Linked DNA regions of Homo sapiens: regions 1, 2, 4, 5, 6 and 7 are each reported to be linked to region 3. Evidence: microRNA targets listed by miRTarBase, many of them from high-throughput screens and not tested one by one. Region 3 holds a microRNA gene; each other region holds the end of a gene's coding sequence.
Evidence for each region. The annotated mature microRNA hsa-miR-8485 reads CACACACACACACACACGUAU and lies in region 3 at 1,506-1,526, opposite strand. An mRNA with a match to its seed (bases 2 to 7 or 8) in the 3' UTR can be bound and repressed. Matches are read on the target gene's strand: a 7mer-m8 pairs with bases 2 to 8, a 7mer-A1 pairs with bases 2 to 7 and ends in A, and an 8mer does both.

Region 1 (4,067 bases), not on the chromosome of region 3:
CCGTGTGGCTCCGCTTCCACCCGTCGGCCTATCCCCCGTGCCCTCACCCAAGCTTTGTGGCGCACTTGGGTGGCGTGGCCGTGGGCATCACCCTGGGCGTGGTGGTCCTGAGGAACTACGAGCAGAGGCTCCAGGACCAGTCACTGTGGTGGATTTTTGTGGCCATGTACACCGTCTTCGTGCTGTTCGCTGTCTTCTGGAACATCTTTGCCTACACCCTGCTGGACTTAAAGCTGCCGCCTCCCCCCTGAGGGCTGGAGGCCCAAGGTCGGGGAGGGGAGGGAAAAGCAGCACCCACAGGGAGCGCCTGCGAGGTTTCTTCTCATCACCAGCTCAGCTAGGCCGGGCAGACAAGGACAGAAGACTCTGGGCCACTGTAATGTTTGTGTTTAGATTTGGACACACAGTGGAGACCCTTTTCTGAAAGGCATCTGGCGGAGGAGTTGATGTGGCTGCTGTCGTTTTTCTCGGCTGCTCTGATGACATCGGGCCAGGGTGAAGGTCTGGGGTGGGGTGTGAGAGTGGCCCTCCCTCACCTGGGCTGGGCTTCTTCCATGGGGCCAGGGGGTGCCCCCTCACTGCTGCGGATTGAGCAGCAGCTTCTTCCTCCTCCTCTACCCTCAGAGACCCTAAGAGACATGGGAAGGCTCGAAGGTTGTTGCGTCCAGGCATGGCCCCTCTCTAGCTCAGAAATAATTGCAGGCCATGTGGTGTCTCCTTGACACCTGCTGTGTCTGGGGCTCCAGTAAGAAGAGGGCCTACTGGACATGTCAGCTGTGACCTGGCTGAAACCAGGGTGCCCTCCTGGGCTGGTTGGTGTGCACCGGGGCATGATCTGTTGTGCCTGGGTTGGGCAGAGCAGGGAGCCTGTAGGCTCTAGGACCCCTCTTGTGCTGGGGGTACCCAGTGAGAGGGACCCATGCAGGGGGAATAAACTTCATTCCAAGTTCCACCCTGGAGAAGACAGACCCAGGACCAGCTTCAGACTTCTCCCTCCCTTTCTTCCAGGATATTGGCATCTCACACGGGTGCCCCAGCCTCCATGCCCAGCCTTGTTTTAGGGTCTTTTTCTTTCCTTTTGCTGCCCTGACACTACTTTGTGCCTCTCTTTGGTTATGGAGACAGTGTTTTGAAACATTCATGCGTGTGTGTGTGTGTGTGCGTATATGTGTGTATGTGATGGGAAAGGTAACTGAGGCACGACAGCGCCTGCAGAGAAGGCATGGAGGATGCAGGGGGCCCATGTGGGCATCCGTGAGAGGTGGCAGACCGTGGTGTGCTGTGGTTGCTGAATGTCCTTGCTTTGACAAAGCCTGCCCCCTTCCTTCCCATCTCCTGTCCCTTCCACACCTGCCCCTGAGCATCACTGACCGGTGGCAGAATGGCCCTGCTGGAGGGAGAGCTCAAGCCCTCCAAGGATCCCTGGATGCTGAGGTTTGCCAGGTTCAGCTCTTGTTTCCGTCTGAGATGGCCTTCATATCCAAAAAGGTTCCATCCTATCTCCCTTAGGAGAGAAAGAGCTTTGGGGGCGCAAGAGAGGCTGGGGTAGGAATGTTGAGGCCATGTGTCCATTTAAGTTAGGGGGACAGGAGGCTACAGGAAGAGGAATTCCAGTTTAGTTGGAAAACTTTGCCTCAGGAGAATTGTTGGGTGCATGGATGAACCTCAGAGGGAGGGCAGCCAGTAGCCTCGGAGGCTTGGATGCGGGAGAGAACATGGTGGTTATCAAATCCACCCCACCCCATTACACAGGTGAGAAAACAAGATGGAGGGAATGACCCTCCTAACAGGAGCTGGTGCAGGCCCCGAATGGAGGGCATGAGGATGACCTTTGACAAAAGATGACACTCCCTTTATCGTGCTCTTGGAATTCTCAACCACTGACAGCCCAGAAGAACAAAGAACGCCAGGCCTGGGAGGAGGCAGGGGGGCTGGGCGTGTCCAGAAACAGGGGCAGGAGTGTGGGAACGGTCTTCCTCCAGCCTGGTGCCCATCCTGGCCCTTGAGTGTAGCAGGGTCCAGGGTCAGTCAGGCCAGGCATTTGGGGTCTTGGGCCACAGTGGCTTCCCATCCTGGTGACTACATGTAAATGGGCTCACTCACTCACTGGCAGGCGAGGCCCAGCCATACCGCATCTTGGCCCACTGCTAAATAGATTGCCCTGGCCTCATCCACATATGTAGTTCCCTAGGTCCTGCTCCCCTGCACCAGTGCCATGCTGAGGGCCGCAGCCTGTGGCACTGTGGGCCCACGCCTTTGGCGGTGTTGCGTCAGCCTGGGGCGTCTTGTGTGTGCCCTGCCCACCGTTCTCTGCCCTAGTGATAGAAAGATGTAGATGGAAGTCAGTGCCTCAGAGGAGGAGGCTCTGAGGCTGTGGAGCTGGGCTCAGGGAAGACCAGGGGAGGATGCAGAAGGAGTCAGGACATTGCTGCCTCTGCCTGGGCTGCAGCCGCACTAAGCTGAGCGATGAGGTCCTTTCCTGGAGGGATGGAGAATCCCCTCCAGATTCCTGTCCTGGCCCCTGGGGATTCTGTGGTGTGGGTGGAATGAGCAGAGTGCCACCTCTGTCTGGTATGACCTGGAGAGGGGGCTTCCTCTCTTAGGGGTGAGAAAGCATTGAACTAGAAGATTCTAGAAATCCCTCATAGAAGCACTCAGCTCCCTCGGGGACTCCCAGGGAAGCTTGTTACTGAGAAGGACAGTGGAGGCGGAATCGTGTCTCCCACCATGTTAAGTGTGTCCTCTGCTGCCAAGGACCCTCGTCTACACCTTAGACCACCAGCCCCAGCTGTTCTCTGTCAGCACACCCACCTCCATCCCCTCTCCCAACCATGACTTCCAAGCGGGGCCACAGGGTGGGGTCATAGGGTCACTTCACCTGACCCAGGCCTCTCCCCAGGTCAGGAGGCAGCTGTCTGGTCAGAGGGGTTCTCTTTGTGGCATCTGGCTTTCTCCTCAGCAGGTCCCACCACCCTCTCAGCAGCACTTCCCCATGGCCAAGGCTGGCCGTGTCCTCTGTGCCTCTTTCCTTGTCTGAGGTGGCTGCCAGCCCAGGGGGTGGTGTGTAAATCTTCAGGCTGGTGGAGGTAGGTTGGCCTTTTATCCACAGGATACAGAAACTGAAAGCTGGGGAATCCCCAAACAGCAGCCATAGACTCACTGGCTCTCATTAAACGGGAGAGGAATCACAGAAACTGGGGAAGGGAAAACAAACCTTCAAAGGAGAAATTTCGCTTTAATGACACCATTCATCATTCGTTTTTTAATTAGGAAAAGCTCCCTAATGAGGCTCTTTTGCCAGCTAATAGGACTCTCGATTTCCATGAGAACCATTCTTGCCCAGAGGATTAGGGGAGCTGTTGCTCACCACACCAGGATCTTCCCCCAGCGTCCAATTTAATTTGCAAATACGTAATGCAGATTCCCTGGGTGCCGTGAAAGCCTTTCCTGGCATCATTCATGTTGCTCCCCGTGCTGGCTGGAAAGCACGGTTCTCCTCTGCCTTAAAAACAGTGCCCAACAGTGAACTGCCCCTCCGAGGACTTGAGTAAGTGGAAAAAACAAAACACAGACTGCAATGTTTGTTTCTAAGTATTTTTGTATTGTGTACATTCTGTATATTTTTGTTGTAACATATTATTTGAGCACAGATTCCATTAAATATTTTTTTTCTTTTTCCAAGCCATTGGTTATTCAGGAAGTGACCTGAAGGGCTGGCATTAGGGCCTGTTTCATCTGGGTCTGGGTCAGGATGGGTGGGAGAGGGTGAACAGCAGCGGTGGTGGATCCAGGATTTCTATAAAATACAGATTGGGGCATCAGTGCTTAGCACCAGTCTGTAGCTGTGTGCATCTTACTTAACTTTTCTCAAATCACTGAACTCTTTTGAGTGGTTGATGAAAGCTGTGATTTCTCTTCCCATAAAAATGTGTATGTAGGACGGGCATGGTGGCTCACGCCTGTAATCCCAGCACTTTGGGAGGCCGAGGCGTGTGGATCACCTGAGGTCAGGAGTTCAAGACCAGCCTGGCCAACATGATGAAACTCCGTCTATACTAAAAATACAA
Region 2 (4,055 bases), not on the chromosome of region 3:
TCATTTCCTTGTTCTGGATCTATCAATGATTTCATACTTTGACTATATCTAAATTATCTGCTTTTCCCAGCCTTCAAAGTGGTCTTTAATTCACCCCTGCTTTCCATGGGTTAAATTTCCTACAATGCTGAGATATTTATATTGGTTTCCTCCTGTCCTACGAACTTCGTACTGATTTCTGCCACAATAAATTTGATTAGATGAAAAAAAAAAAAGACTTTTTTTTTTTTTAAGATAGGGTTTCACTTCTGTTGCCCAGGCTGGAGTGCAGTGGCACAATCTTGGCTCACTGCAACCTTGGCCTCCTCAACTCAAGAGATTCTTGTGCCTCAGCCTCCCGAGTAACTGGGACTACTGGTGCGCCACTGTGCCCGGCTAATTTTTGCATTTTTCTGTAGAGATGAGATCTCACCACGTTGCCCAAGCTGGTATGGTACTCCTGAGATCAAGTACTCCACCCACCTCAGCCTCCCAAAGTGCTGAGATTACAGGTGTGTCGTCACTGCACCAAGCCAATGAGGCACTCATTTCTGAATAAAGTACAAGCATTAGTAACATCTCCCCTGGTCTCTCCAGATTGGTTATGCTGCCACAACTGAATTCTAAATGGGTTAAGTATTATACAATTACTTAGGCTTCTTTGGTAGGTATCAAATAAAACATCCACCTAAATTCTTAAGAACCTTGTTAAATAGTGGCATTTACAAACTCTCTATACAGATTCTGACAGCACATTTCTATTGGAAGACTATGGAATCACAATGAGGAAGGTAGTACTATATAGATCAGCAGCTGGCTTAATTGGCTTCCTGTAACTTACTTATTAACAAATTAGGTTACAAAATACAAAGTCAACTTAATGAATCATCGTATTTGGCATTGAACTCAAAGCTGAATTGTGTGAATTGTGAGGTGCTTTCCATAATTCAACTTGCTTAATTACCCATATGAATGAATCATTCATACCTCAAGCCTGCTAACACTTTTGGATACCTGATGTTTATGTAATAGTGATGTTCATTTGCTGAGTAAGGCATGAGTAGTTTCCTAGGTAAGCAGAAGCAGTCCTCAAAACAATCATGTGACGCAGTAACAACAGGGCTGTATTTTGAAGGCTCTAGAAACCGAAGACATGTATTTCAAGAGCCAAGTTACTTTTTTTTTTCTTTTACCACTTATCCTCAAGTTCTACAAGTTACTTACACTGCATCAATTCAAATACATTTGGTTATTAGATGTCTATTTTTTAAAGATGGACAAGATAAAATTGTGTAAATTTACAAGAAGTAATGCAAACTGCTAATAATGCTTATTTAAAGGAGTTATTAAAGCAACAGCTTACTACCAACCCTACGCTTCTGAAAAATGTGCACAGGTGGGAAAAGATATGGGCATAGCTCTTAGCATATTTTAACAACTGAAAATGTGGCAGGGAAAAAGTCTTTATTCTGAGAGTACAACCATCTTACTTTTGGGGTATTAAAATTACCTTTTATGAGATAATTCATTTTCAATGTTATTTGACAAAATTCAAAGTTGGTCATTCATTTTAGTCTCCTCATTTTTAGTAAATTTGCCTCCTGTAAAATCTAAGTTATGGGAACCACTAGAACATGTGTGAAAACAAGTTGCTGTGAGATGCAGTGATAGATTTTACAAAAAGAAGAGCATTTCATGAACACAGATCAGGATATCCAAAATTTTGGTGAGGTGGATTTTTTCCAAAGTCTGGTGACCAACTGTGGAAAAATAATTGGTTAATCTGACAGTGAGGCCCCTTAACAGTGTTGAAGAAAATGTATCCGAAAAAGCACCCAGAGTCAAAGAAGTGAGAGCAATGCTGTATTTATCCCCCACTGACATGTGAGGAAAGAACAATTTTGGACATACACCTTGTAAAACTTCTCAAAAACCAGACTACATTTCTAACTCTAAAATACATGCTGCTGGTCATGAAGATGTTACGATCATATAATTGAACCTACTGACATTACATGTAATAAATTAAAAACCCAAGTACCATGCTTAGTGTAGTGTCTGGTACATACAAGTGCCCAATAACAATTAGTTTTATTTCTAGAAGGATTACCTCTGTCTGCCTCTTGTACATTCTTATAAAAAGAAAGCAAAGTGAACTGAATAAACTGTATCTTAAATAGACTAAAGAAAAGCTTTTGTATTTGTCTTTTCTCAACTAAGCAGTTTCCAGAGTGCCTAGCAAGGTCTCAGAAACGCACTCAGTGAAGGGAGTTAAATGGTAACTCTTTTACAACAGAAAGGATTCCCTACAGAGCCCAGCAGAGGCGGAGCACTAGGTTGCCCAGCCTGGCCTTGAACTCCTGGGCTCTTGTACTGCAGCCATCCTCCCACCTCAATCTTCCCAGCAGTTGGGACTACAGGCCTGTGCCATGGCACCTGGCTAAGGATAGCTATTATGAGAGTAGTAATGTAAGATGAAACTAAAAAGATTCATAATAGTAGGATTAAAAAGCACAAAAATTTTAAAGATTCTCCAGTACGTTTATTTCACAAACTTTTTTGTACAGTTGACCCTTACACACGGGTTTGAACTGGGTGGGTACAATTACGCGCATACTTTTTTCAATCAAATGCAGGTGAGGTCACACAGATCAGCATTTGTGCATGGGATGTGAAACTCATGTGTACGGAGGGTCAACTGGAGGGCCAACTTTTCTACATATGGGTTCTGCAAGACTTTCTGTGGGACTTGAGTATGGGCAGATTTTGGTATATGTGTGGCCCTGGAACCAGTCCCTAGCGTATACAAGGGATGACTGTATTTTAATGGTTTATAGTGTTAAAAAGAGAAAAATATCCACATAAACACAATTTTGAACACTGAACTATTTTAATATGAATTAATGTCTTATGTTTATTACCAATTATCTTCAAATTGCAGCAGCCCATGAGTTTGGTTGTAAGTGTTCTTGCCATTCCACCCCAGCTGTCACTGAGTCAGTTTAAAATACACACACACACACACACACACACACACAGACACAAGCCTTTTGTAAAGTAAACAAATCTTTTATACTGTAAATAACTGTTCCTCAATGGAACTTTTTGTATCCAGTTTACTTCTTTTCTAAAGCTGGGATATTCATATTAAATACACAACAATCTCTATAAAGCAAAGAGTCTATCTCTGTGAAAACACAAGTAATTCTTGATGGCAATATTTTTCTTAATTCACCTAACCAAATGCAGTTTGGAAGGCCAAAACGAGAAAAAAACACTTCAGATTATCAAAACCAAAAGAGATATGAAAAAATAACATATTTAACAATGTAGGTGGGAATTTTAAATACAAGATCCTGTTGAAAATATTGATATTCAAAGAAACAAACAGCTTTGGATCCATAGCCACAATTTAGGTTTTCCTAGATTAAAATCAGAAGTGATTTTATTGTTGGAAGATACATTAATTCTTTGAAGTCAGAATAAGAGGCTTGACAATTTAATTTCTAATTAAGTGACTGAATAGACAAAGGATCAAATACAAACAGTAGTGCAGGAAGAAAATAAATTGGAAGAAATAATTGTTCAACCAGTAGTAATAATTAAGACCACCATTTTAAAATTTTCTATACACAAAGAATGAGAAAATATTGTTATTATTATTATACTTCTTTCTTCTTCAGTATTAGTGGACCCACATTATCTCCTGTCAATTCATTGTGTTTATTATGTGAACCATCGCAGGCAGGAAACTAAAAAGAAAAAAGAATTACAAGTGTTATTTTTAAAATATGATTCATTAGGTAGAAACATTTGTGAAATGCTCTCAGAAAGAAAGCATATCACTTGCTAAAAAAAATCAGATCGTTTTCCTGAGTAATAGTTACATTCTACATCCAACTGAACCATATTCAAAATCTAACAATTTAAACAGTTACTTCATTATTTGGTTTAGATTTTAAATAAAAACCTATGAATGAGTCCATATGAGTGATTAAAATAGACAACAGGTTTAAAAGGGAATCGAATAAGTTCTTGGTCATTTGTGGAGCTTAAAATTCGAGCTCACCTATTGC
Region 3 (4,067 bases):
CCAAAGAACAAATCAATTGATTTGATTATGAGTAGGTGGAGGTTACATTCTTTATCTTACTGAATTTGAGGTAAAATCGGTTAATCCTTTTATCCCCAATATTCATATTTAATCCAGAAAATGCTCTCTGGAACAAAAGTAATCATTACAAAATAAAGGCTTTATTCTACATTTTAGCAATAGTCTTTCCTTGGCTTATAAAAAATTAATTGCGGGGTATTCTCTTGATTGGGTACTTTAGATCCTGGTGACTGTTCTAACTGATGGGGCTGAAAGACAGTTCCCTTATCTCATAGCCAAATCACCTCCATGCAAATTGATCTGGGAGTGCCTTTAGAATAAACACAGCTGGATTCTCTGCAGCCATTTATGGGTCCAGTTTCCTAGGCTTAATTTTGATTTATAACTACTGAAATTAAATTAGCCATCTTCACTGCTTAAGGGTGGCTTTGATTTCACCAGTGCAGTAGGGAGACTATTTACCAACATATTTTATCAGTAACATTTCAACCTGGGTAAGGGGGTGGCGGTGGGGGGAAGGCATCTTATCTTTGGTATTTGTACTTGAGATTCCTTCAGAATATTTTAATTGTATTATTTACCGACAAATGTGAGGATTAGATTGTCAAATCAGACTCACATGAATTAAAGATCTTGCCCAGCATCAAGCTTTGCTAAATAATTTCAAGGATATAAGCTATCAAGTTCAGATAAGGTGCATCATATAACATAAAGTGGTGTACCTTATGTCATATGCTCCAGGTAGCCCTGCCTCATAGATCCTGGGTTCTATTAACTATGGGTAATCCCTTAGCCAGAGACATCTTGCTAGGGACAGAGATATAGTCTCTTATTCATAGTAAGTAACATTAGTCTATTTCCATTTGACAAAGAGATTAGACTAAGTCTTTGCTTTCCTCTAGGAGCACAAATTATTGTACAAAACGAGAAACAAAATTTGAGAGATTAAAATATGTGAAATATGTTAATAGTTCTAAGAAGGCTTTTATCTAGAACACGGTAATAAATGTCGACGTGCTATAGTAGGAAGAGTTGAAGATAAATGGTTAGATATCGCTTTTTATCCATATGACTTTGTGCATTAGTTTTTTGAGCCTCAGTTTTACTAATATTCCAAAGGATTAGGGAAATAAGCCTAACCAGAGTGACTCTGATTTTTTTTTTTTTTTTTTTGAGATGGAGCTTCGCTCTTTCACTCAGGCTGGAGTGCAGTGGCACAATCTTGGCTCACTGCAACCTCTGCCCTCCAGCTTCAAGCGATTCTTCTGTCTCAGCCTCCCAAGCAGCTGGGATTACAGGCGCCCACCACCATGCTTGGCTAATTTTTGTATTTTTAGCAGAGATGGGGTTTCACCATGTTGGGCAGGCTGGTCTTGAACTCCTGACCTCAGGTGATCCATCCGCCTCAGCCTCCGAAAGTGCTAGGATTACAGGCAAGAGCCACCACACCCAGTCGACTATGGAAATTTTAAAAGACAGTACATATACGTGTGTGTGTGTGTGTGTGTGTGTGTGTGTGTGTGTGTATGTATACACATATGCTATATACACACACACACACACGTATATCACAGAACTGAAGACCATAAAATGTTCTATACATATGAAAAAATGAGAATTTGAAATGTACATAATTCTTCACACAGATAGCTGACAGTGTTATAAATCTCCTTTCTTATAAATAAGAAAAACAGTCTCAGAAGTAAGTAATATTCTGATGGAGAGTTAGAAAAGAAAACCTGTCTTACAACTCTTTAAACATGCTTCTCCTCTAAGCTAAATCATAGTTTGCTAAAGAAGGTCGTGATAAGGTAGAAGAAAGACAAGAAAAGCCAAGGCAATGGGGTGAAGCAGGCGGAGAAAACTGTTTATGCCTCTTCTTCCAATGTCTATTTATTTTCTTTGTGGTTCTGAGCAACTATTTCTTCTTTTATCTTGCAACTGTCAAAGCAGCTCTCTGTAGAGAAACCAGCAAGCACACCCATTAAAACCAAAGCATGAATTTTCGGGTGAGGATCAGTGAGGCTCTCTTAAGAATACCTGAATTTTCACAGAGATAAACATATTTATTTGATTTAAATGGTAGAAAGTGTTAATTACTAAGTTTCATATACTACCAGGAGTCATAGAGAAGTCATTTTGGAGACCAAGAGTATATTCCTAGACCATGTAATCACATCATTTGAGTAGCTGCTTACTGAGTTTATTCACAATGAAAGCCTGATACATAAATTCTTTAAACAGAAACCAGTGGCATTGTTAATTTCCACTTTTGTTTCCAAATTGTTGCTTTTGTCTCATTGAGAGCATATTACTTACTTCAAGCACCTTAACAAACAAAGCTGGGTCATACACAAACGTCCTACTGTACCAGCAATAAGACAATATGAATACCCTGCAACCTCTCAACAACCAGAAGACAAAGATGTATTTGGAAGGGGCAGATGGGAAGTGAAAAAGAGAAATAAAATATACTTTACAGGGAATATTTTGCACACGTAATTCTGAGTGTTATATTTTTAGCTTGTATAAATAAACTTCATTAGTCTTCATTTTGAATATACAGGAAAAGTTTTTTTAGAAAAGACTCATTGTCACAAGCTGATAAGGTAAGTTAGGACAGTATATGATTAATATGCTACAATGATGTCTAAGAGAGAGGATGCTCATTAAATTTGTGTGTGACAAAAGTTGGAAAGAGTGTTAAGACCTTGAAATACTGGAGCATCTTTCAAAGTGAAACTTGACAAGTTAGAGAAATGGTCAGATAGAGAAATGGATTTTAATCAGACTGAAAGGAAAATTAATGTATTGGTTTTGTCAGTTGTACCTTCATCTTGAACGTAATGACTGCCTGTTACTTCCTCTGTGGTTTCATCCGAACCTAACGCGACACTCCCCTGAAAGGTCTCCTCTCTCCCTTCCTTGCTCTTCTGTAGCCCATGCTTCACTTCTCAACTATGGTGATGTTTTGAAGATGTGAATTAGATTACATCATTCTTTTCTTCAAATCCTCAAATAATATTTAGAATATAATTCAAATCCTGGGTTGCCATGGTCTACAAGGCCTCAAATAAAATAGGTTCTGCCCACATCTTTGTTTCATTTTCTTTCTTTTCTCTGCCTCCAGGTTGGCACTTTTGTTCCTTTAACTCTTCAATTTACCTTGGTGCTTTGTACCAGCTGTTCCCCCAAAGTAGACAGCTCTCCATAGCTCTTCACACGGCTGCACTTCCTGCTACTCTCACTTAAAGTCACTGCCTTGAGCCAATTTCGTTAATCTGGCTCTAAATAACAACACAACCCCATCTACACTACAGTTCATCCTAATACCAGTCTAATTTTCTTCATAACACCTATCATTATCTGAAATCATCTTAGTTGTTTCACTTTAGAATCCTCCTTCTCTCATGAGAAAGTAAACATTGTGCGGGCAGGGTCATGGTCTTGTTTGTCCTGTACTTCCCACCCGTACAGCAGTGCTGGCACTTAGTAGGTGCTCAGTAGATATTCGTTGACAGTATAAGACAGAAGTCCTCAAATGTTGTCCAAGGACATTTGGTAGTCCCTGAGACTTTCGGGAGGGCCAAGGGCCAAAATCTTTTTCATCATCTCACAAATATACAACGGTGCTGTCTAGAGGCCAAAGGATATATGCTATCACAAAAGATTGCCTGCAGAAGTAGTTGTGAGAATCTAGCTCTCTTAAGCCAAACATCAAAGAGATTGTCAATAATGTAAAATAAGTCACTCTTCTCACAAAATTATCTTAGTGTTGGAATATAATTATTTTTCATAAAAGTACACAATTTATTTTAACATGCAACATGCAATGTGGTGGCTATTTTAAAATGAATTAATAAATATATAAATGTTTTCTCAGTCAATTCTCAATAGAGTAAACACTAATACATATACATAACCTATACAACAAACATAAACTTCTCAGAGGTTTTCAATACATTTAAAAAGTAAAAAGGGATCTTGAATCCAAAAATGTGAAAACCACTGAAACAGAATCTCATCAACTAGTCTCCATTATTCCC
Region 4 (4,067 bases), not on the chromosome of region 3:
GCTCAGCCCCGACCCCAACAACACCGGCTTCATCAATCAGGACTTCGTGGTGTGGATGCGCACGGCGGCGCTGCCCACGTTCCGCAAACTGTACGCGCGCATCCGCCAGGGCAACTACTCGGCCGGGCTGCCGCGGGGCGCCTACCGCGTCAACATCACCTACAACTACCCGGTGCGCGCGTTCGGCGGCCACAAGCTCCTCATCTTCAGCAGCATCTCGTGGATGGGTGGCAAGAACCCCTTCCTGGGCATCGCCTACCTGGTCGTCGGCTCCCTCTGCATCCTCACCGGCTTTGTCATGCTGGTCGTCTACATTCGCTACCAGGACCAGGACGACGACGACGAGGAGTGATTCCGGCTTTCCAGGGATCCCTCCTGCTTCTTGCCAAAACTCTTGCAAGGTGCTTTTGGCATCTCCTCCTCGCCCGTCACCCAATTCCAACCTCGCCTAGCTTTTCCTCCCTTTGTGAATGAGGGGACCAGATAAGGGAATTACCCCCCTTGCTCTTGGGGGGCTGCTAGACTGTCTTGCCGCGGGGAGGGATGTTGACTGCAGAGTGAAACATCCTTGCAAACTCTTCCCACCTCCTTCACGACACTGAGTTGCCATGTGAGGTTCTTCAAGTCTGAGAGTGGAAGGGATCCCTATGGAGACTCCTATTAAACCCCTATTAGAGGAAGAGATTGAGAGACCTAGCAATGTGAAGTAACAAAGATCAGGCAGCTGCAAGTGACTCCTGAATCTTGAGTCCAGGGCTTTCGCCACTACAGTACAGTGGTTTTCTTTTCTTTGGTCGGGGAGAGTGGGCTGGAATGGAGAGTGAGGCCCACAAATTACCTGCAGAGACGTGGAGGCGTGAGGGAGAACATGCTTGTTAAATATGCAGGTAGATTAGGAGACACCAAACAGAGATTCAGACACAGTAAGGCTGGGATGAGATCCTCGAAGCTGTGTTTTAACAAACTCCACTGGAGAGTCCCATATTCCCTCAAATTTGGGAATCACGACCCTGAACCAGGTTGGGCCTGAAGCAGTCAACTGAATTCACTTTTTCGGATAGTAATTTGTTCCCAGGGGCAGTGACAACCATGATGTTCCAGGTTTGGTCTGGCACTCTGCCTTGAACGTAGGAAGCTCTTGATGATTTGTGGAATGAATTTTTAAAAAATTACTATCTGGGGAAAACTAGTTGGCATACAGAGTTGTAGGACAGGGTTTATGTGATTCATTTGATATTTTAGTATTTTGGTGTAAAAGCCAACAGGCAAACTTTGCCAGGTACTGTGTAGAAACTCGAAAATGTGAGGCCAGTTTGTACAGTTCAGAGGAAATGCTTTAACGTAGAATCAGATAGCTGGAAGAGATCTTCGAGGGAAAGTAAGTTCCCTAAAGTCACATCTATGTCTCCTAGCTCAGTGTTCTTTGTCATTGTGTGTGTGTGTGTGTGTGTGTGTGTGTGTGTGTGTGATTAGAAAGGGCTTCATTCATACCTTTTCCCTTGGACCTGGAAAAAAAATTTTTTTTATCTTTTCAAATGAAATCTATTGATTTCTAGTAATCATATTTGAATCAATGTTAAAGCATATATAGTCTTATATGTAAACTAGATTCTTAAGATTATTTGAACCTTTGAGATGAAGTTTACACTCAACTAAAATCATTCCATTGATTTTATTGATTAACATCAATCAGTATGTTTAAAGTTATTCTAAGAAGCAATAGTTTATTTTTAAAAACCTTGTATAGCAAAATAACTTAAAACCCTTTGTGATATCATCTTACCAGTTTATTTGGTAAAAACAAACAGTTATTTGGTATTTGTCAGAATTCTTCAGTGCCTGCTATTACAGCTATTTTCCAATTACTAACTTGATTATACTCACTCAAGGCAGTGCAAGATCTTGAAGTACTTTTTAGCAGTTAAGTAATATTGAATTGTATTGAATAGTTTACATAGTTTATTCTAGTCTTTGAAAATTACTGAACATGGACAATGTGCATGTCATTGACATCTGCCTTAGAACTTCTGGGACAATCCTGATTCGAGAGATTCTATCCCATTATTTACATATACCAAAAATACTTTGTTAATTTAATGTGTTGGCTTCCCAACTCCTGAACACGACACAATTTTATTATTAGATTTTGTATGGTGATTTTAGGCTATGAAAACATGATCATTATATGTATATAGATACATTTTTATTTGTTACAAATGTTTGAGCAGCTCACTAGCCCACCCCTCCTCTATTTTGGGTAAGAGAATTTACTACCTTTTTTAACTATGTAGTTGAGAGCAACATGTATTTTGTTATTTTTAGAATGGTCAGTATATTGCTATAAAATTTTAAATGAGACTATGAAAGTTAAAGTATTCTGATTCTGGTTAAATTAACGAATATGGTTCCAGGCCCTGTTCTCTGGGTTTTTGAGAGAGAATAAAGGTTATGTTTGTCTTACCTTTGTTATCGAGTTTGCTGAATTCTTTTGAACGATGATCTTAAAGGCACAAACACCACCAGCCACTTTGCTAATTTCTTAATAGCAGATTTACATTGCAGCAAGAAAACCATCTTTTATAGTAACATTCAGTTAAAATGAACTCAATTCATTGTTAACTTCCTAAAACAGAATTTGAACTTTATCAACCTCAACGTGTATATAAACTAGATAGTCCTCAATACTTTATCAACCTCAACATGTATATAAACTAGATAGTCCTCAAATACTGTTTGAATTTAATAAATGTCAATTTAAAAATTTTTGTAGTAGTCTTCTGCATTTTACTTCAATTATAAATTGCAATTATTTATTGGATATTTTGGACTTCAAAGCAGCAGAAACTTTAAAACTGAAATGGGAAACGTTTTCCTGCAATGATCCCTGTGCTGTAACATTTTGTCTGGTGTCTCAGGCTTCCAGGTTCTTGTTGGCCTGAATTCCCTTGTTGCCCAGTAAATGTTCACTAGCTAGAAGTATCTTCAGGAAGTGAGATAGAAAAGAGTGAACCTCAACAATTGGACTGGAAATGAGCTTTGACCTAACTTTGTAAAATAAAAGCATAAAAGAGAAAGTAAAGTAGTTGGTGAGAGCTCCTAAAACAATAATATGTCACTGTATTTTCTCAGATGGTTAAAAAAAATTAAAACAATAATATGACAAAGATTTTCCAGGTATCTCCACAATCAAATCAACTAACCAATTTGCTCACTATAAAATTATTGTTATTATTATTTTTTTTGAGACAGAGTCTCACTGTGTTGCCCAGGCCGGAGTGCTGTGATGTGAACTTGGCTCACTGCAACCTCGGCTCACTGCAACCTCCGCTTCCTGGGTTCAAGAGATTCTCGTGTCTCAGCCTCCCAAGTAGCTGAGATTACAGGTGCACACCACCACGCCCAGCTAATTTTTATATACTTTTAGTAGAGATGGGGTTTCACCAAGTTGGTCAGGCTGGTCTTGACCTTCTGACCTCAAATGATCTGCCCGCCTTGGCCTCCCAAAGTGCTGGGATTACAGGTGTGAGCCACCAAACCCGGCCTATGTAATTATTAAGATTCAGAGACAGACTAATAGTCTGGAATTTCCTTTAGAGCAAATATCACTTCATAATATATAATCAAAACCCTTTCTACCTTACTTTAAGTCTGTTGCCGTCTTCCTGTCATAGGAGATCTCAACAATCTTGAGTAACTCTCTAAGTTGCTGGTAGAGCTGCAAGGTCATCAACTAGTTCCTTGGATATAAGAAGTCCAAGGGCATACACGTAATCAAAAAGTAAATTCCCGGCCAGGTGCGGTGGCTCATGCCTGTAATCCCAGCACTTTGGGAGGCCGAGGTGGATGGATCATTTGAGGTCAGGAGTTCGAGACCAGCCTGGCCAACATGGTGAAACCCCGCCTCTAATAAAAATACAAAAATCAGCCAGGTGTGGTGGTGGGCGCCTGTAGTGACAGCTACTCAGGAGGGTGAGGCAGGAGAATTGCTTGAACCTGGGAGGCAGAGGTTGCAGTAAGCCGAGATCATGCCACTGCACTTCAGCCTGGGTGACAGAGTGAGACTCTGT
Region 5 (4,067 bases), not on the chromosome of region 3:
AGTAGTCCAAATTAACATAAGATCACTTAACCATTTCCCAATTGTTGGATATTTACTGTTGTTACAAGTGTTTCACATGGATATATCACATGCCATAAAAAATATCTACACCTACTCTTTGTTGGTTGTCTTCTTTTTGAATTATATCCCTGGAGTAAATTCCCAGAAGTGTCACTTATGTAGTCAAAGGATGTAATCATTTTTACATTTTACATATTTCAAAAATGAAATACTACCCAAAAAATGTGTGCTTTGCAACATCAGCTGTGTAATAAGAATGTGGTAGGTTTATCATTGAATTTCTATGCCAAATCAAGTATTCCACTGGGCTTCCTTCGTTTAAGAAAAGGGATTAAAGTAACAATACTTTCCCCACATCAAGGATAACACTCCAAAACAAGGATTATACTGCAGACAACTACCCTTTGTGGTTTTATTCTAGTCTTCAAACTATATCATTCTCTGAAGTCAAGGATTACTATACGAACTACAAGTGATATTGGATATCTATCTGATATTTTAAGGTATGCTTCAAATTTAATGCAGGGATTAAAAGAATGGGACTTGGACTCAATTTAGTTCTTTACAGGAAACCAGCATTTTTGGCTCCAGAATCCCTCTAATTTAAACATCCTTAGATTTACTGTTGTTGATGTAAAGATTTAATAAAATGAGAATTGGAATTCTCCATTAATTTCTTTTTATGTTTATTCCCAAGGTTTGCAAGTGACAGCATAAAGACGGAACACAACAAATCCTTCCTGAAGTGAATTAGGAAACTCCAAGGAGTAATTTAAGAACCTTCACCAAGATACAATGTATACTGTGGTACAATGACAGCCATTGTTTCATATGTTTGATTTTTATTGCACATGGTTTTCCCAACATGTGGAACAATAAATATCCATGCCAATGGACAGGACTGTACCTTAGCAAGTTGCTCCCTCTCCAGGGAGCGCATAGATACAGCAGAGCTCACAGTGAGTCAGAAAGTCTCCACTTTCTGAACATAGCTCTATAACAATGATTGTCAAACTTTTCTAACTGGAGCTCAGAGTAAGAAATAAAGATTACATCACAATCCAATATCTGTGGAATTCATTGTGTATGTTTATGTATTTGTGTGTAGGTGTGTATGTGTGTGTGTGATACATACATACATCAAGTATCACAAGACATTGACCTTATATATTATGCACTGTGATGTTTTTCCGTCTTTAATTATAAAAAACATATTGATCACAACCACAATTTGGAAAATGTTGCTCCATACCATCCCATACCAACACTCACCACCTGCAAATAATAGCATTACTAGGAGCTGCAGTCACAATGAATAAATCAACAATTCGCTACAAGATCTAGGATTATTTGTGTATTTTGTTGAGTGTGTGTGTGTGTGTGTGTGTGTGTGTGTGTGTGTGTTGGCGTGTATCTAATACCATTGTATCTCATTGTTGAGACTTTGTTACAAATAGGGTTTCTGGTTTCTTTCTCCCCCCTCGTGGTTCATTTTGTTTTTGTCAAACCAGTGGTCTAAAATCACAGAAATAAGCAATTACTTCAATCATGTGGAATCCAGGGGACCTATCTTTGGAAAGCACAGAAGGAGATCTGAATTGTGTGATCTCTTGAGGCTGCTTTCAATGCTGGAATTTAAATTATGTACTGAACAATCTTTTGCTTATTAATAAAAAGATTACACACAACCATCTCAATCTTTTTTTTATATATACTTTAAGTTCTAGGGTACATGTGTACCATGTGCAGGTTTGATACATAGTTATGCATGTGCCATGTTGGTTTGCTGCACCCATCAACTCATCATTTGCATTAGGTATTTCTCCTAATGCTATCCCTCCCCCAGCCCCCCACCCCCGACAGACCCTGGTGTGTGATGTTCCCAGCCCTGTATCCAAGTGATCTCATTGTTCAATTCCCACCTATGAGTGAGAACATTCAATGTTTGGTTTTCTATCTTTGTGATAGTTTGCTGAGAATGATGGCTTCCAGCTTCATCCATGTCCCTGTAAACGACATGAACTCATCCTTTTTTATGGCTGCATAGTATTCCATTGTGTATATGTGCCACATTTTCTTAATCCAGTCTATCATTGATGGACATTTGGGTTGGTTCCAAGTCTTTACTATTGTGAATAGTGCCGCAATAAGCATAAATGTGCATGTGTCTTTATAGTAGCATGATTTATAATCCTTTGGGTATATACCCAGTAATGGGATCACTGGGTCAAATGGTATTTCTAGTTCTAGATCCTTGAGGAATCACCACACTGTCTTCCACAATGGTTGAACTAGTTTACAGTCCCACCAACAGTGTAAAAGTGTTCCTATTTCTCCATATCCTATCCAGCATCTATTGTTTCCTGACTTTTTAATGATCACCATTCTAACTGGTGTGAGATGGTATCTCATTGTGGTTTTGATTTGCATTTCTCTGATGACCAGTGATAATGAGCATTTTTTCATGTGTCTGTTGGCTACATAGAAGTCTTCTTTTGAGAAGTGTCTGTTCATATCCTTTGCCCACTTTTTGATGGGGTTGTTTGTTTTTCTCTTGTAAATTTGTTTGAGTTCTTTGTAGATTCTGGATATTAGCCCTTTGTCAGATGAGTAGATCGCAAAAATTTTCTCCCATTCTGTAGGTTGCCTGTTCACTCTGATGGTAGTTTCTTTTGCCATGCAGAAGCTCTTTAGTTTAATTAGATCCCATTTGTCTATTTTGGCTTTTGTTGCCATTGCTTTTGATGTTTTAGTCATGAAGTCCTTGCCCATGCTTATGTCCTGAATGGTATTGCCTAGGTTTTCTTCTAGGATTTTTGTGGTTTTAGGTCTAACATTTAAGTCTTTAATCCATCTTGAATTAATTTTTGTATAAGGTGTAAGGAAGAGGTCTAGTTTCAGCATTCTACATATGGCTAGCCACTTTTCCTGGCACCATTTATAAATGGGGAATCCTTTCCCCATTGCTTGTTTTTGTCAGGTTTGTCAAAGATCAGATGGTTGTAGATGTGTGGTGTTATTTCTGAGGCCTCTGTTTTGTTCCATTGGTCTATATATCTGTTTTGGTACCAGTACCATGCTGTTTTGGTTACTGTAGCTTTGTAGAATAGTTTGAAGTCAGGTGGCGTGCTGCCTCCAGCTTTTTTCCTTTTGCTTAGGATTGTCTTGGCGATGCGGGCTCTTTTTTGGTTCCATATGAACTTTAAAGTAGTTTTTTCCAATTCTGTGAAGAAAGTCATTGGTAGCTTAATGGGGATAGCATTGAATCTATAAATTATCTTGGGCAGTATGGCCATTTTCACTATATTGATTCTTCCTATCAATGAGCATGGAATGTTCTTCCATTTGTTTGTGTCCTCTTTTATTTTGTTAAGCAGTGGTTTGTAGTTCTCCTTGAAGAGGTCCTTCACATCCCTTGTAAGTTGGATTCCTAGGTATTTTATTCTCTTTGAAGCAAGTGTGAATGGGAGTTCACACATGATTTGGCTCTCTGTTTGTCATTGGTGTATAGGAATGCTTGTGATTTTTGCACATTGATTTTATATCCTGAGACTTTGCTGAAGTTTCTTAACAGCTTAAGGAGATTTTGGGCTGAGACAATGGGGTTTTCTAAGTATACAGTCATGTCATCTGCAAACAGGGACAATTTGACTTCCTCGTTTTCTAATCGAATATCCTTTATTTCTTTCTCTTGCCTGATTGCCCTGGCCAGAACTTCCAACACTATGTTGAATAGGAGTGGTGAGAGAGGGCATCCTTGTCTTGTGCAGGTATTCAAAGGGAATGCTTCCAGTTTTTGCCCATTCAGTATGATATTGGCTGTGGGTTTGTCATAAATAGCTCTTATTATGTTGAGATACATTCCATCAATACCTAGTTTATTGAGAGTTTTTAGCATGAAGGGCTGTTGAATTTTGTCGAAGGCCTTTTCTGCATCTATTGAGATAATCATGTGGTTTTTGTCATTGGTTGTGTTTATGTGATGGATTACGTTCATTGATTTGCATATGTTGAACCAGCCTTGCATCCCAGGGATGTAGCCAACT
Region 6 (4,067 bases), not on the chromosome of region 3:
CACCTTGTGCCTACCTCTCTAAGTCCCTAAACCAGTGCTTTCCAAGCAGAGGTGCCATGAGCCTTACAACTGTGGTTGCAGATGGAGGCGCCTCCATTAGGATCTCTTCCCTCTTCCACCCAGAGCTCTGCCCCCAGTCAGTGGCTGCAGCATGGGCCCTTTTGTCCAATCCCAGGGCTTGTTCCCTAAGTCAACCTCAGCACATGCCCAGCTCAGCCATGTCCCTTCACTCCCCTACAGGCTGGAACTGCCAGGGTGGTGCCCACCCAAGGCGGCTGTCTGCCATGACAACAGGAGCGTGTGCGTCAGGCTGGTCCTGCCGCACTTTCTGGGTTTTGTTTTCCACTCCTCCTCATTGCTCATCACATACTTACCTGGGGACAATGAAATAGGTCTTTGCTATTCCCTAGAAGTCACCAAAATGCTTTAGGACATTAAGTTAGTCCCAGGGTCACACTATACTAGGCCAGGGAGTCACCCCTTCACTAACTCCCATCTCCAGTGATACCCTGGTATGCACTGAAGCCTACTTACCAAAGGGGTACCATGTGGACCAGACAGCAGTCACAATACAGTCCAAAGAATGTCAAAACCATGGAAAACAGAACTTTCCTTCACATGCACTGTTGAACACTACTGCCTGTCCCTTTTATCAATCAATACCCGTTCTCCTAAAATTTAGAGAAATTATAACCCCAAAATATGTACAAAGCATCTCCCTTCCCCCACTTTCTTAGCCTGATCCCCTATCACTGAGGTCTCCCTCTGGGGCTGCGCCTCATCCTCCTTAGCTGGAGACTAACGTATCTTCCACTAGAGCCACCATGGGGTCCTCACCTCTCCAATGTGGGCTTCTTCCAAGTCCAAGGTGGAGGGCAAGCCCCGACCCTCTCTCATCTGCTCCGTGTTCCAAAGTGCAGGGAGCTATCAAGAAGGTCCTAAGTGCATACCAGCACTCGTCCCAAGCCCACACACATAAGCACCAAGAGAAAAAACACAAATCACCATGCCAAACAAAGGTGGAGCAGCTGCTTGGATTGGGTGCCCATAGGCAGAGGGCCCGGCTGCAGTTGTGGACAGGGAGTGTGTGGACAGGGAGTGTGTGGACAGGGAGTGTGTGGACAGGGAGCGTGGCCGGCCTTTCCTAGGCAGCTGTAGGATGTGAAGCAGCACAGGCCTGACACAGACATGGTAGGGCTTTCAAAAAGCCACTCGAGTAGAGTGAGCGCTGGCGACACAGCAGAGTTCCCACCCTGCTTCCATGCTGGGCTGGGCCACATGGAAACCTTCCAGGTGCCTTTTCCCAGGTGCCACTGTACCCCTTCACTTGGGGGCACCTCTCCCTGGCAGGTACTAGTCTTACCAATATAGCTGCTGGAGACAGAACAGAACTGAGCACAAAGAGAAAGTGATCTGTACACCTCCCATTCATGGAATGGTGGCCCTGCTGTGTGTCTTCCCTCCGATCACGCTTAAAGAGCACCATGGTCCCACCTGAACAGCCTTGGCTGGAGTCCAGGGGAACCTAAAGCCTGTATTCAGGCAGTTGTTCAGCAGGGCAATTGGGCTAACAGAGTTGATGGTGAGTGGGTGGCAGTAGTCTGCGGACCCCAGCAACCACTGAATGTCCTTGACCTTGCAAGGCAGCGGTTCTTCAGAATCGCAGTCACTTTTCCCAGCATCATCAAAACTCTTAAGAAGCCAGGCCCAAGGACCCAATCTCTGGGATCCCAAGACATATACATGTCTTTAGGTGGGTGCGGAGGTTGTCCTTCTGCAATCAAGCCAAGACCCTTCAGACAGGGGCAGCTGAGCCCAGGATAGGAAGCCCTATGGTCCAGGTCATGTCAATGTGGTTCATTTGGCATTGAAATATGGCGGAACAGCACAGTCCAAAGGGCGTGGCCAAACTCAGCCACAAAATGATTTCTTGGTCATCCCCCTGTGAGGAAGGATGAGGTCCTTCAGAAGGAGGACATGCATGCCAGTGCTGCATTGTCACCACACTAGGACCACGGCAGTCCACAGCTCTTTGCTTTTACAAATGCCACCAAGACCCTGGCTGGGTTGCCAGAGGCAGACACCCCCCCCGGCCTTAAGTGCTTAAGGATGTTTCCCGAAGGGAGTCTGTTTTCCCTTGGACAAAGGCAGCCCATCTGATTGCCCAGGCACGGGGAGTACATGCTACAAGGTGCCTTTGGAGACCCACAGATGGTGCGTGGGTGGCTGCAGGGCTGCAGTGAAGGCCACATGGCACCTGAATAGAGATGGGAACAGGTCTCAAGCTGGGCAAGGCTCGCCATCAGTGACAGGGGGTAGAAGCAGGAGTGACTGAGCATCAGCCGCTGTGGCACTGCCCATGGAGATCCTGGGCAGCAAAGGGAGTCGCTGGTATCCACCCTTAGCCTGCTATGACCCTCAGGCGTGGGTGTGTAGGAACCTGCAGCCTGATAGACCTGCCCAATGGCTGAGAGTCCACCACGACCTTATTTAGCAGGCAAGTTCCAGATTCCCCAAGCCTCTGGCTCCATCAGAACACCAGCAGCTGAAGTCAGGCATTAACAGAGGTGCAACATTGGTCCTTCCCAGTGAGAGCAGTGGGGCCTCCCAGACTGCATATTCATGTGCAGAGTGGAACCTGGCCCCCAGACATGGCAGAACTACGCTCCTTGCAGCAACCACTCGACCACTACAGCACAGATGAGGCCCTGCCCGCTGCACCGGGCCCTGGCAGGGCTGGGAGGCATCTTGGGCAGGAAGCCAGACCCCCTCTCCAGGTACACCCATCAAGCCACCAGCCTGGCCAAACGGGCATCTTTCTGTCCAGAGCTCATCAATAGGAACTGGGCAACCAGGTGGGGAGCCGCCAGGGGAGCTTGGAGAGGGCAGAGTAGGAGCCTCCATGAACCAAGTCAGGCTGGAAGGGGTCAGCCCTCGTGGTCCGTCAGCGTGCGGCGGAGTCCCTGTGCCTAAGTAGCAGAGCGGTAGTCATTGAAACAGGCCGGGATGCCAGCAAGAGGGAGGCGAGCATGCAGTGAGCGATAGGTACAAAGCTAGCACGTAAGAGGAAGCACGGCAAGGTGGGCAACCAGGGCGCCAGGAAGGACGGAAGGAAGATCTCCTCGGGGAACACGTCTGGAGAGGCAAGAAGGGAGGTCTTCAAACAGGGGCAAAGCTGTCGTATGGGCATTTCTTCTACACAGCAAAGAGCGTATGCTACCTGGGTGGCTGCAGACGCTACCAAGTGCTGGCGGATTCTTAAAGATTCCGTGCTCGGGCAGGCAGGGCTGGCGCTGGACTAGTCCCGTTGGAAGCTGGATGCACTGGGCAAGGCCCCGTGCCCGCAGAGGCCAGCTGGCGGCAGAGCATCTGCCTCTCTCGCACAGCCCTATTAGAGGCAGAAGTCTTCCTGATTTGGGCGCGCCGCGCATGCCGGAGCGGAGACTTGTAGGTTCTCCGCAACTCTGCCAGGAACCCCTGATAGTTGTTGCGCAAGGGGCTGTCAGGTTGCATGTGGGGGATAGCCCACTTCTCCGCCTCCCCAGTCAGTCGAGACACAAGGAAGGCCACACGCTCGGCCTCACCCGGGAAGCGGGAGGCCTGGAAGATCATGAATCTGTCCATCTGCATCAGGAACCCCGCCAACCGGCCTGGGTCCCCGGAAAAGGGCTCGGGCAGAGAGGTTGGAGGTGTGGTCATGGGTCGAGTCCCGTTTGAAGTAATTGAGGAGATGGGCGGGGTGATCTGCAGAGCCCCCGGGATCCGCGCCCTGGTGCGTAACAAGGTCAGCTCTGCCATCACGCTCTCCAGCATGTTGGTGAGATTGGCCTTCTCCGCCCGCAGGGTGGAAGCCTCCCGCCTCAGCGCCGAGTTGGTGAGGCGCAGGGAGGTCAGGGTGTCAATAACGTCATCCATCTGGGCATTCGGAGACGCTGCCAAGGCTGGGCTTTCAGCTTTGGACGTCTGCGGCTGCACCATGCTGGCCAGAGGTCAGCCACACGCTGAGATCCGCGGGTGGACCAAGAGGGTGTGGTGACCAGGTGGGCCCCTGTAGAAATGGGGGCAGT
Region 7 (4,067 bases), not on the chromosome of region 3:
CAGTTTTTTTTTTCTGTTATTTCCCATTAAATTTTCTGTACTAAATGTTCAGGAATTTCTTAAAATATGATAAGAAATCATTTCAGTAATAACATTTAGCACACTACCAAATTTATTTGATCGTTTATTACATTTTACATTTGTACAGAAAATTAAAATAGTAACTGGGTATTTGGAATCTGAAAGTTTTAAGTATATTTTGGTAACACTGTTATTTGGATTTGAATGGCACAAGGATGGGGACCACCTGTTCGGGATGTTACTGAAATCTGTTTCTTACGTTTTTAGAGGCTTCGTGACGGAGTTATCAGAGACATTGAGAGGCAAATTCGGAAAAAAGAAAACATTCGTCTTTTGGGAGAACAGATTATTTTGACTGAGCAACTTGAAGCAGAAAGAGAGAAGATGTTATTGGCAAAAGGATCTCAAAAATCATGACTTGAATGTGAAATATCTGTTGGACAGACAACACGAGTTTGTGTGTGTGTGTTGATGGAGAGTAGCTTAGTAGTATCTTCATCTTTTTTTTTGGTCACTGTCCTTTTAAACTTGATCAAATAAAGGACAGTGGGTCATATAAGTTACTGCTTTCAGGGTCCCTTATATCTGAATAAAGGAGTGTGGGCAGACACTTTTTGGAAGAGTCTGTCTGGGTGATCCTGGTAGAAGCCCCATTAGGGTCACTGTCCAGTGCTTAGGGTTGTTACTGAGAAGCACTGCCGAGCTTGTGAGAAGGAAGGGATGGATAGTAGCATCCACCTGAGTAGTCTGATCAGTCGGCATGATGACGAAGCCACGAGAACATCGACCTCAGAAGGACTGGAGGAAGGTGAAGTGGAGGGAGAGACGCTCCTGATCGTCGAATCCGAGGATCAGGCATCAGTGGACTTATCGCACGACCAGAGTGGGGATTCCCTCAACAGTGATGAAGGAGACGTGTCTTGGATGGAGGAGCAGCTGTCCTACTTCTGTGACAAGTGCCAAAAATGGATACCAGCCAGTAAGGAGCTTCTCAATTCCTTTGATTTGTCAATTCCTGTGTGAAGGTTTGTTTTTCCAACCTGTGAAAGAAACGTGAATGTAAAAGAGACCTAAATAAAAGGATAATTATATTTATTCTCTAGTTGATCAGCTATAAATTTATATAAAACATAGGCATGTTTGTACTAATGAAACGTACTGTCAACCTCTATCACATTGTTAAATTAACACTTTTGGTGGTAACTCAATAAAATTGAGAAAATTGGAAATCCTGTGTTACTTAAAGAATTAGCCATATTTTTCTAACAAGGTCACAGAGATTTAGGGCCAAATTCCAGTCCCAGTGTTGAATTCATGTTCAAGTTTATAAAAATTACTTTGTTAATATTTAACTTACGTGGAGAACTCCTGCTATTGTATACTGAAAAGAGGTTAGAATTAGCAGATTGAAGGTGTTTTTTGCCCTTTTTCTAGGACCAGTCTTTTTTTCCATTTTCCTTTTTTTCTGCTGGCAAGAGATACCTCATACACACTCCCTGATTGCCTCAATCTTGAGATTTTCTTTTCTTTCTTTTTTTTTTTTGAGATGGAGTTTTGCTTTTGTTGCCCAGGCTAGAGTGCAATGGCATGATCTCGGCTCCTGGGTTCAAGCGATTCTCCTGCCTCAGCCTCCCAAGTAGCTGGGATTATAGTGTTTGCCAGCACACCTGGCTAATTTTTTTTTTTATTTTATTTTTTTTTTTTGAGACGGAGTTTTCCTCTTATTGCCCAGGCTGGAGTGCAATGGCATGATCTTGGCTCACTGCAACCTCCGTCTCCCAGGTTCAAGTGATTCTCCTGCCTCGGCCTCCCGAGTAGCTGGGATTACAGGCATGCGCCACCATGCCCGGCCAATTTTGTATTTTTAGTAGAGATGAGGTTTCTTCTCCATGTTGGTCAGGCTGGTCTCAAACTCCCAACCTCAGGTGATCCATCCGCCTCGGCCTCCCAAAGTGCTGGGATTACAGGCATGTGCTACTGTGCTCGGCCCTGATCTTGAGATTTTCAATGGCCAGCTTCCTGGCACCTGAGGAGTATGGCTTGCCAGCCATCATATGGTTTATACCGAAACAGGATTTTCCCATTAGGCAAGAGACTAGTAAAGATATAGGTACTTGAGGAATGCCTTTGTGTAATATAATTTGTAACCAAGTCAGAGAAATACATATATAACTGTGAAGAGGGTCATTTTCTGGCATGTGGAAATGTTTTTCTTAAAATGGGTTCAACTTCAAATTTAGTCACTGTTAACAAATTAATAGTAACATTTTCACAGGAAATGCAGAATTTACTAGTTAGCTGGTTTTTGCTTCTGAGCGGTCTCTGTTATTGATTTCAGGTTCTGCCTGAATTCTCAGTGGCTTTCCCTTTGTCCTGTTGAGGACAAATTTTAAGCTACCCTTTGTGGTCAGGACCCTGCTAACTGTAGTTTCTTTGATTCCCACACAACTTTGCAGTTAGGGTGAACTTATTCTTCACAAACAATTCTTATCCTTAGGGCTTTGCACAGTTTTTTTCTTCTGGAATATGCATCTCCACAGCCTCCATTCTCCCTATACACAAAGAGACCCCTTTTCACCTGGCCAATTTCTAATCCTAAGCCTCCCCCTAATATAGGTTGGGCCTCCTTTTATTTACCCTCACACTGCCCTGTGGTACACAGCACATTCCATTCCTTATGTGTCACAGAGCATCAGCATCACCTGAGGGACTAAGAAATGTAACTCCTAGGCTCTGCTTCAGAAATTGATGCATTTTATCTGGGCTAGAATCAAGCATATTTAGAAAACCAAGAACAACTTGGGTGATTCCAATGCACTGTGAGCATGGAGAACCACTGTGTTGTTGTGATCACCTGTTTTCTATGCAGCCCTCAGGGAAGTGCAAACCTGTGAGATCAGGCACCATTATCTGTCTTGGACTTTGTATTCCCAGTTCCTAGCCCAGTGCCTGGTATGCAGAGGGAGCTCATATTTTTTGAAAGAATGTGTGAAGAGACCTGCCTCTGGGAGTCAGGAATGTGACAATTGGGAAATCCAGCAACAATACCTGCTTTTCCAGTACCTTTCTCCTAAAAGTTACTGGATCCTACAGATCTTAGTGGGCGTATACTTGGTGTTAGAAGAATAGAAATCTTTCTAATTCCCTTCCTTTTCCCCATTTTGCAATTGTGGGTTGGCTGAAGAAAAGAAGACAACATGGGAAAGGAAAATCTGGGTGATAAACGGATTAAACCTTTAGGTTACCGCTGCTCTAGATAAACCCATGATGTGACTTTTTGTTTTTCTCCTAGGTCAGCTGAGGGAACAGCTCAGTTACCTTAAGGGTGATAATTTTTTTAGGTTTACTTGTTCGGATTGCTCAGCAGATGGCAAGGAGCAGTATGAAAGGCTGAAGCTGACATGGCAGCAAGTGAGTAAAAAGCCCTTCCCCAAATCCATGAGGGTGGTTCCCCCAGGAGTTTGTTGGAACGAATATCTAGAAACTTAGGGATGAGCTTTTGAGTTGTTTGGAGGGGCACTTTTTATTTCGCAATGAAATTAGATACCGAATATGTGGAGAAGGGAGTGAAAAATACTCGCTGTAATCCCAGCACTCTGGGAGGCCAAGGCGGGCAGATCACCTGAGGTCAGGACTTCGAGACCAGCCTGGCCAACATGGTGAAACCCCATTTCCATTGAAAATACAAAAATTAGCTGGCTATGGTGGTGGGCCCCTGTAATCCCAACTACCTGGGAGACTGAGGCAGGAGAATCGCTTGAACCTGGGAGGCGGAGGCTGCAGTGAGCCCACACCGTGCCACTGTACTCCAGCTTGGGCGACAAAGTGTGACTCCTTTTCAAAAAAAAAAAAATATATTCACTGCTGACTTGGTGAATTGGGCTTGAGAGGCTTGAGAATCTCATGATTTCTTTTATATGTGATACCAAGCTCTGATTATAATTGAAAATGAAATTCTCATTTTCCTGGCAGCCATTTTAAGAACAATAAAACTATTTTTTTAAAGTGGAAAGATGGCTATGTTGAAAATAGATTTGGAAGAAGGA

Region 1: miRTarBase lists RHBDL3 as a target of hsa-miR-8485. Seed matches in the 3' UTR shown: 7mer-m8 at 1,146-1,152, 7mer-m8 at 1,148-1,154, 7mer-m8 at 1,150-1,156, 7mer-m8 at 1,152-1,158, 7mer-m8 at 1,154-1,160, 8mer at 1,168-1,175 and 2 more.
Region 2: miRTarBase lists CISD2 as a target of hsa-miR-8485. Seed matches in the 3' UTR shown: 7mer-m8 at 3,011-3,017, 7mer-m8 at 3,009-3,015, 7mer-m8 at 3,007-3,013, 7mer-m8 at 3,005-3,011, 7mer-m8 at 3,003-3,009, 7mer-m8 at 3,001-3,007 and 7 more.
Region 4: the mRNA of TMEM30B is a reported target of hsa-miR-8485. Seed matches in the 3' UTR shown: 7mer-m8 at 1,431-1,437, 7mer-m8 at 1,433-1,439, 7mer-m8 at 1,435-1,441, 7mer-m8 at 1,437-1,443, 7mer-m8 at 1,439-1,445, 7mer-m8 at 1,441-1,447 and 10 more.
Region 5: the mRNA of NMRK1 is a reported target of hsa-miR-8485. Seed matches in the 3' UTR shown: 8mer at 1,121-1,128, 7mer-A1 at 1,130-1,136, 7mer-m8 at 1,137-1,143, 7mer-m8 at 1,139-1,145, 7mer-m8 at 1,141-1,147, 7mer-m8 at 1,389-1,395 and 15 more.
Region 6: the mRNA of RTL6 is a reported target of hsa-miR-8485. Seed matches in the 3' UTR shown: 7mer-m8 at 970-976.
Region 7: miRTarBase lists PET117 as a target of hsa-miR-8485. Seed matches in the 3' UTR shown: 7mer-m8 at 478-484, 7mer-m8 at 480-486, 7mer-m8 at 482-488 and 7mer-m8 at 484-490.

What each region holds. Positions count from the first base shown.
Region 1 is chr17:32,320,979-32,325,045 of GRCh38, forward strand. RHBDL3 (rhomboid like 3) reads left to right here. Exons shown (of 9, transcript NM_138328.3): 9 at 1-3,681. The coding sequence ends at 251. LOC124903980 (a long non-coding RNA gene) reads right to left here. Exons shown (of 2, transcript XR_007065711.1): 2 at 3,581-3,796. Among named protein-coding and RNA genes, the nearest start is that of C17orf75, 19 kb to the right of the region's middle. RefSeq lists an enhancer at 1,652-2,531.
Region 2 is chr4:102,887,017-102,891,071 of GRCh38, reverse strand. CISD2 (CDGSH iron sulfur domain 2) reads right to left here. Exons shown (of 3, transcript NM_001008388.5): 3 at 1-3,731. The coding sequence ends at 3,642. It also overlaps a transcript of SLC9B1 not described here. Among named protein-coding and RNA genes, the nearest start is that of CISD2, 20 kb to the right of the region's middle.
Region 3 is chr2:50,694,667-50,698,733 of GRCh38, forward strand. MIR8485 (microRNA 8485) reads right to left here and starts at 1,596; the gene lies at 1,506-1,596. The region is part of intron 5 of NRXN1 (neurexin 1); the gene reads right to left.
Region 4 is chr14:61,276,377-61,280,443 of GRCh38, reverse strand. TMEM30B (transmembrane protein 30B) reads left to right here. Exons shown (of 1, transcript NM_001017970.3): 1 at 1-3,074. The coding sequence ends at 352. It also overlaps a transcript of PRKCH not described here. Among named protein-coding and RNA genes, the nearest start is that of TMEM30B, 2.9 kb to the left of the region's middle. RefSeq lists an enhancer at 1-644.
Region 5 is chr9:75,058,219-75,062,285 of GRCh38, reverse strand. It overlaps NMRK1 (nicotinamide riboside kinase 1), which reads left to right. Exons shown (of 9, transcript NM_017881.3): 9 at 719-1,709. The coding sequence ends at 738. Among named protein-coding and RNA genes, the nearest start is that of NMRK1, 28 kb to the left of the region's middle.
Region 6 is chr22:44,493,579-44,497,645 of GRCh38, forward strand. RTL6 (retrotransposon Gag like 6) reads right to left here. Exons shown (of 2, transcript NM_032287.3): 2 at 1-4,067. The coding sequence starts at 3,978. The coding sequence ends at 3,259. Among named protein-coding and RNA genes, the nearest start is that of RTL6, 2.6 kb to the right of the region's middle. RefSeq lists enhancers at 1,771-2,548, 2,549-3,326.
Region 7 is chr20:18,141,920-18,145,986 of GRCh38, forward strand. It overlaps PET117 (PET117 cytochrome c oxidase chaperone), which reads left to right. Exons shown (of 2, transcript NM_001164811.2): 2 at 289-1,250. The coding sequence ends at 438. It overlaps KAT14 (lysine acetyltransferase 14), which reads left to right. Exons shown (of 11, transcript NM_001392073.1): 2 at 289-1,000; 3 at 3,314-3,432. The coding sequence starts at 742. Among named protein-coding and RNA genes, the nearest start is that of PET117, 6.1 kb to the left of the region's middle.